Linked DNA regions of Homo sapiens. The main gene of each other region encodes a partner of the protein of the gene in region 2 in a complex. Each region holds a gene or a part of one and is shown on either strand. Other genes may lie near its edges. The genes, in order: GNAS and ADCY9.

What was found.
Region 1: the proteins of ADCY9 (region 2) and GNAS are in contact, whole or in part, in a cryo-EM structure (PDB 9U3P), measured with the Homo sapiens proteins. Residues at the interface, in NP_001107.2 of Homo sapiens: Ala381, Phe382, Arg383, Phe1070, Glu1072, Tyr1075, Glu1076, Glu1080, Cys1081, Arg1083, Val1084, Glu1087, Asp1091, Phe1152, Asn1155, Met1156, Leu1157, Trp1158, Phe1159; in NP_000507.1 of Homo sapiens: Ile207, Glu209, Phe222, Arg228, Arg231, Arg232, Lys233, Trp234, Ile235, Gln236, Phe238, Asn239, Glu268, Leu272, Ser275, Ile276, Asn278, Asn279, Arg280, Trp281.

What each region holds. Positions count from the first base shown.
Region 1 is NC_000020.11:58,894,421-58,897,920, forward strand, and holds part of GNAS (protein GNAS), read left to right. Parts: intron 1-1,191; coding exon 1,192-1,264; intron 1,265-3,500. UniProt on the Homo sapiens protein: Guanine nucleotide-binding proteins (G proteins) function as transducers in numerous signaling pathways controlled by G protein-coupled receptors (GPCRs).
Region 2 is NC_000016.10:3,987,186-3,991,209, forward strand, and holds part of ADCY9 (adenylate cyclase type 9), read right to left. Parts: intron 1,912-4,024; coding exon 1,809-1,911; intron 1-1,808. UniProt on the Homo sapiens protein: Adenylyl cyclase that catalyzes the formation of the signaling molecule cAMP in response to activation of G protein-coupled receptors.

The DNA.
Region 1 (3,500 bases), on a different chromosome or scaffold from region 2:
GATATTGATTACGGGCTTGTGAAAAGGCAAGTAAAGGAGGAATGCTGTGCTATCTGGGCATTAAAACAAAACAATACAATTAAAAGTTAAAAAGAAAGAAAAAGGTAATAACAGATTTGTGTGGAAGGAGGGCAAAAAAACTTCACACGTGGATTATCTGTTGGAGAATGTGCATTGCAAAAAAGATGCAAAATAGCAATCCTCCCTCTAGCTTGATGGAAATGTGTTTTTTCCATGAAACATATATGTATTTTTACAAATGAAAGATGATTTAAAATGGAGGCATGTGTTTCTACTCTTTGAGTTGGGAAGGGCTTGGAATCTTTCAAATTCAGTACTTCCCAGGGATAGTTTTCCTTTTGATTAAAGTTTTGTTCTTATGTTACTTTTTACTGTTGTTTTTGCAGTTTACCTAATGCTAATAGGGTCTCAGGAACTGTATTTGATGTTAAAGTGTGGTTTTTCCAGAAGATGACAGATAATTGATGGTCTCCCCTTTTCCTCAGCAACATAGTTGTACCCAGAGGGAATTTATCTTTAGAAAGATATAGTTTGTGAGGAAAGAGGAGGATGGATAAGTGGATAAAATGTAATGCAGTTTTAGGGGTGGATTTTTAAGTAGCCCAAGGGGTAGGAAACCTGCACAGAAAGAAGCTGCGTTGTGAAAATGTTGAGGAGGAAAGTGCTGCATCGCTACGTGATGTGGAAGAGACTGCAGTGTCTGGGCATTGTTGGGAATCCCGGGTATTTTAACCATGAAACATCTGACAACAAATTATGTGTCTAGATATGTTTATGTGTGAATGTTCATGTATCAGGGATTCAGTTTCACAGTTTTAACTTCAATTTTCTTGTTTACCCCACAAATGACAAAATTGCGTCATTCCTTCTCTTTGCCCCTTTCCAACACCACCCCACAATTTTTTAAACAATCAAAAGAAAAATTAAAACCAGCAAACCTTAAATTCTTGTTTGTTATTTGGATGGTGAAATACTGCAGGTAGACACTGAATTGGACATTGATTTCCTTTTCTCTGCGTCGAAATGTCAAGGAAAGTTGCAAGTCTGTGATTTTGTGTTTGGTTTTTTGCATGTTGCTTCTATGGAAAAACAAAACAACAACAGCAGACCTCCCTGCCCAAAGTGTTAAAATGCCTCCTTCATAACCTGAGACTTACTTTCATTTTCTAGGTGCTGGAGAATCTGGTAAAAGCACCATTGTGAAGCAGATGAGGATCCTGCATGTTAATGGGTTTAATGGAGAGTAAGTGTCAAATCTGTGCAGGGGGGCACCAAGTAAGAGGAACAGACTTTATACTAACCTTTAGGAAGTATAGGTGGGCTTTGGGGGCTGGGCAGCCAGTTTTCACTTAATTTTTCCTGATTTACATATTAGAAAATCCTGGGAAGGGCTCTTTAGGGTCCCTCACCCCCCACCCCCTTGGATCTTTGGTGCAACAAATACTACTGATGAAAGCACCAGTGTTTGTGACAAACATCTCCCTATCCCAAGAAAATCGTGCCTGGTTGCAGGGGACGCTTGACAGCACTTGGCCCCGTGACAGCCCCTCTCCGGGCCAGGTCCCTGCCACAGTCTTCGGACATCACTGCAGTGTCTTCAACGTGGCTTTGGCCGCCCCCTCGTCCGGCCCACGCTGATCACTGCAAATTCACCCCACCCCACCTCACGCAGATTTCAATGTAATGAACCAACACAGGATGTTTTAAACTATTAGGGAAACATTGTTTCCATAATATTCTCACCAGAAACAGATGTGGAAGTGGCAGCCCGTGTTTACAGTTTCTCATTTTTTTTGTCCCCCTTTAAATTACCATTATGGGTAAATCATTGTTTCCCTTTAAAACAAAAAACAAATCAGTACCCCTGCCTACAGAAAAGAAGAGGGAACATTTATTTAAAGGATGGAAAGACTGGGAGTTAGGCACTCCCAGCCTCACTGAGGGGCATTTTTGCCTTTGAGAAGTCCTCCCAGGTATCCTGGTATAGCACAATGTGGCAATCCGTAGTGGGAATGAAGATTAAACAGGAGAGACTTTGTATTAGACCTGTGAGACGAGTTAGGAAGCCCTGCCTGGCATGGGGAATGCAAACAGGGAACATTCAATAAATCGGGGAACTTGCTTTTCTCCCCAAGACCCCAGATGGGGCCTACCCATCGTTCTCGTGTAACAAAACGTGTAAAAAAAAAAAAAGAAAAAGAAAAAACAAAACAAAAAAACTAAGTTGACCAGTCTGTTTTCACTGGTATGAGAGCATTAACCGCACTAGATTTCAAGCACCTGAAGGCACTAGTTTGTAATTACTAGCTGGTTGGCACAGTCCTGTTCCCTTTCTTAAACTTGGATTCGATTGAAAATTTAACCTTGAGTTGCTTCAGCTTCCATTTCAAAAGGGGAGTTGGAGTCAAGGTGGTAGCGTTTAATTATACCAACCACCCCCCAAAAAAACAAACAAAACAAACAAAAAAACCTTTACTAGTCACTAAGCATCCAGGAAACAAAGGTGAACTTTTTCACCTTTCAGAGCAAGGCAGGCAGCTCCTTATAGAGAATTCTAGAATTTGTTAGATCAAATAATTGTTTAGAGAAGGATGACATCACCCATACGAATAGTCCTGTTAGTTGAGGATGCTTTTTCTACTTTAACCCTGAATTCAGAAGGATTGGTTGGGATGCACAGGGGGCTTCTTCACTCATCTGATTATGACTCTCAATGGGTTATCAACATGCACATACGTGCTATTGAGTAAGTCAGCATCACTTGTCACCAACCAATTCCGAAATTAATTCTTGACACACCCCTCGATAAAGCCCTGCCAGCGGAGACTGCCATCCTGACAATAAATAAATAACCCTGAGACAGACTTCCAACCATGAATCTGTCATTTGAAGAAAAATCTTGCATAAATTTTCCCCCTGCAACTTGCAGGAGTACTTACTTATTCATGAGAGTAGTTAAGCAAAAATAATTTGACCATGTATCCTCTAGATAAATATTTTGATGAAAACTGGACATGGCTAGCATTTTTCAAAGATGCAGCAGCCACTGTTTACCTTAGCTTGAGTCGGATGGAAGCTAAGTCACCTTTGAAATAAATTACTGACAGCTTCATTACAGATTGCCCTAAAATTTAAAAATTTTTATAGAAAGGATTCTCCTCCCTAAGCGAGCCAGCCTGTAACACCAGGCAAGGGTTTTAAACCAGAACTTCTCTTTTCTGTTTTCTTTTTGGAAAGAGGAAGCAACATTCCCAGTTTGCCTTCTTTGCAGACAAGGGCACAGATACGTTAAATTTAGCCTGTGAGAGGGTTTACAGGGGTATTCCTCATGGGAGCCTAGATACCTTATTTTTATCTCATCCAACTGCCTCCTTTTTTCTTTTTCCTCACTGCGGTATTGCAACAAAAGCTATTTCCTTCTTAACTAGGAATTCCCTATGAGACAGTGACATCTGTCCCTAAAGGGTGGTCTGGGTGGT
Region 2 (4,024 bases):
GCCTCGCCGTGTGCTGGGAGGGCACTCGCAGACCTCCAGCTCCGGATGTTGTTTCTAATTCCTGCTCCCCATCAGGCCACGTCTTTCCCCCTTCCCCAGCACCAAGAACAGTCCCTGGCAGAGCAGAGGCTGAGCGTACATTTGGTGCCTGGAGGAAGGCATGGCAAAGGTGTCTGCTGTTTGGGAGGCTCAGCAGTGCAGGGCGAGAAGCGGCCCGGACGCCTGGTTTGGCAGCCAGACCACTCGTGTCCGACCCCGGCTATGGGACCACAGCCACCTGTTCAGCCTTGCTCAGCGTCAGCTCTTTGGTAAAAGGAGGATAATCATCAGCTTCCCTACAGCATTGCTATGAGCATTAAATGAGACGATATTTTGCCTTACGGGCCACCAACCAGCCAACTGCCAACTTGCAAGTCCACTCCGGGAGCCATGTCTGGGACATTAACGGATATTCACTGTCCCTTGGAGGCTGACGGAAGGGGGCACCTCCCACCCCACGAGGCATGAACTGGCTCTACTGGGCTCACCAGGGTCTCTCTAGAGCCCAAGCCAGGACACCACGGAGTTTAATGAAGACCTGCTGGAGGAACCAAGGGAATCAGAGTGAGAAATCCCTTTTGTTCCGGGTGGGGAGGGCATCCACTCTTGACTTGGGAACACTCAGAGGTTAGGTTTGGGCCCAGAGGAGAGAATGCAGTCTGGAAGCCGCCAGGATTCAAACCAGGCTCTAGGTTCTTGTATTATTCCTTCCAGCAACCCCCTAAGGAGCACTTGTGAGCGCTGGGACTCTGCTGGAGGCTGTGAGGAGGGGCTGGAGGAGAGAGATGGGTGTTGGGACTGTGCTGGAGGCTGTAAGGAGGGGCTGGAGGAGAGAGACGGGGGTCCTACCTCACAGAGCTGAGCATCTAGGGAGGGAGGAACACGAATCCAGAACCACACACGGAAAGATTCCAAAATGGGGCACACACGGAGAAGGAAGTGTATGAAGGGAAGTACAATCCAGTCTGCAGTCGGGGAGAGCTTCTTGGAGGAAGTGGGATTGGGTGATGGGCTGAGAAGTCAAGTACAAGGGGTTAAGGCGGTGGGGGCGGGAGAGGGAACATGGAGCCGGAGTTAGAGAGAGAGGTGAAGGCCTCCTGGGCCCTTCTCAGGGGAAGAAAGCAGGGAGGGCAACAGAGAAGAGTCTCACCCAAGACTCCAGGACAGGTGGGACGGGGGCTCTTCCAGGGCAGGTCGGTGGGGAGTTCCCTTCCAGGGCAGGTGGGGGGTTCCCTTCCAGGGCAGGTGTGGGGGATTCCCTTCCAGGGCAGGTGTGGGGGGTTCCCTTCCAGGGCAGGTGTCGGGGTTCCTTTCCAGGGCAGGTGGGGAGGGGTTCCTTTCCAGGGCAGGTGGGGGACCCCTTCCATGGCAGGTGGGGGGGGTTCCTTTACCAGGGCAGGTGTGGGGGCCCCTTCCAAGGCAGGTGGGGGGGTTTCCTTCCAGGGCAGGTTGGGGGTTTCCTTTCAGGACAGGTTGTGGTGGGGGGGCCCCTTCCAAGGCTGGGGATAGCCTGGAGATGCCACGGCAGAGGAAAGGGGCTAGTAATGGCGAGGCTGCGCTTTAAGACAAAGGACTAAAGAAAGGGTTTTTTTCCTCCTTTGCAAAGAGACATTTCATGTACAGTTGCCACTTAGGGTTTACAGAGTGTGGGAAATCAATGTTCGCCTTCGTGTTCCCATCCCTTGGTAAAGCACAAAACTAACAGTGAATGACCATGTGAGAACAACAAACACATTCTTTAGTAAAAGCGCAAGGAGAAATGAACGCACCTCTTCCTGATAGCTGGTCCTGTAGGATCGCTCCAGCTCCTGATCCAGGAAGTTCAGGCTGAACTGATTAATGGGCGGCTTAAAAAAGTAATCTTTCATCAGGCTAGAAGACACAACAAATGCAGTCGATCAATACCCAGCACCATAACTGTGCCAATGTTTTCAGATCATAATTAGCTACCAAAACGCTGCTCATTAGGTATATTACAACAGCTGCGTCTAAAAGCGCCTGTGGAACAGACGCCACTCAGCTGCCCCTTGTTAAAACAGATCTGTGGAAAGTCCTTCGCACCTCAAAGCATAATCATATTTTGTGTTTCACCTTCGTTAAAGAATGACCATCCACCATGATTATAGCACACATCATCAGAACCTTGGTTTTTTGGGGTTTTTTTTTTTTGAGGCAAGGTCTCACTCTGTCGCCCAGGCTGGAGTGCAATGGCGCAGCGATCTTGGCTCACTGCAATCTCCGCCTCCCAGGTTCAAGCAATTCTCCTGCCTCAGCCTCCTGAGTAGCTGGGATTACAGGCGCCTGCCACCGCACCCAGCTAATTTTTGTATTTTTTAGCAGACGCGGGGTTTCACCATGTTGGTCAGGCTGGTCTCGAACTCCTGGGCTCAAGAGATCCACCCATCTCGGCCTCCCAAAGTGCTGGGATGACAGCGTGAGCTGCTGAGGCTTGTTTTTGAAAACACATTCCTAATGTCTAGGATTAGGAGAAGATGAAGGCAGCTTTTCTGTTCTTTGAAACAATCTTTTGTGAAGAACACGCAGATCACTGTGCTGAGAGTACTTACATGGATTTGGAGGCTTCAAACGAAAACATAATTCAGAACCGGCGGTCCTGTCATTCAGAGCACTGACAGTAATTGCCACCGTAAAAGCTAACAGGTTGTTATCACAAAATTGTGTTTATAGTTAGCGTAATTTTGGTGCTATTGTCACATATGCAGATTGCATGTGAAACCTGCAGAATGATAAAGCTCAGTGATTTTAATAGCAGGGAAATCAACCCCGCTTTCCATGACTCTTTCATTCATTTATGAATTGCCAGCAAATAGTAATATCCTTTCTATACTGCAGAAAATTACTAGAAACTAAGGGAACGTTAACATGATTTCAGAAAGCAAATATAGCTGTGTTAGCCTCTCTCCCTCATACAGTGACTATCAGAAGTAAATTAGACGAGGCTGGGCGCGGTGGCTCATCCTTGTAATCCCCAGACCTTTGGGAGGCCGAGGCAAGCGGATCACCTGAGGTCAGGAGCTCGGGACCAGCCTGGCCAACATGGTGAACCCCCGTTTCTACAAAAAATACAAAAATTAGCCAGGCCTGGTGGCAGGTGCCTGTAATCCCAGCTACTCGGGTGGCTAAGGCAGGAGAATCACTTGAACCTGGGAGATGGAGGTTGCAATGAGCCAAGATGGCGCCACTGCATTACAGCCTGGGTGACACAGCAAGACTATGTCTCAAAAAAAAAAAAAAAGAGTAAATCAGGTGAAATATGTCAAGTGCCTCATGTGCCCCCCACACAAAGTACGGCTCATCACGTGTGTTCCTTCCTGTCCTTGCAGCACGGCGGACACTCTCCTTTCTGTGACAGGTATCCAGTAACTTCCAACATTCTCAGACTCAGAAGAGAAATAATTCTGTCCCAGGACACTGACCCTCTCTCCTCCCCTGACTCAGGGAGTGTGGACTGAGGGAAGAGCAACCACGCAGCTGCAGAGAGGATGTGCACAAGGCCACATTTTAGCAGTCAAGTGGCAGAAGCGACACTGCTATTAGCTGTGCTGCTCCATTTATTTCTTATTTGTTTTTTGAGATGGAGACTCGCTCTGTTGCCCAGGCTGGAGTTGCAGTGCTGCGATCTCAGCTCATTGCAGCCTCTGCCTCCTGGGTTCAAGCGATTCTCCTACCTCAGCCTCCTGAGTAGCTGGGATGACAGGCACCCGCCACCACGCCCAGCTAATTTTTGTACTTTTAGTAGAGACGGGGTTTCACCTTGTTGGCCAGGCTGGTCTTGAACCCCTGACTTCAGGTGATCTACCTGCCTCGGCCTCCCAAAGTGTTGGGATTATAGGCGTGAGCCACAGCGCCTGGCTGAAAATCACCCTTTGAGGCATTATAGTGAAGACAGAGGCAAGAATCATCAATGAATGTTAAATCTAGGGAATTCTGATGGGGAATGAAATATGTACAAGATCTTCAAGTA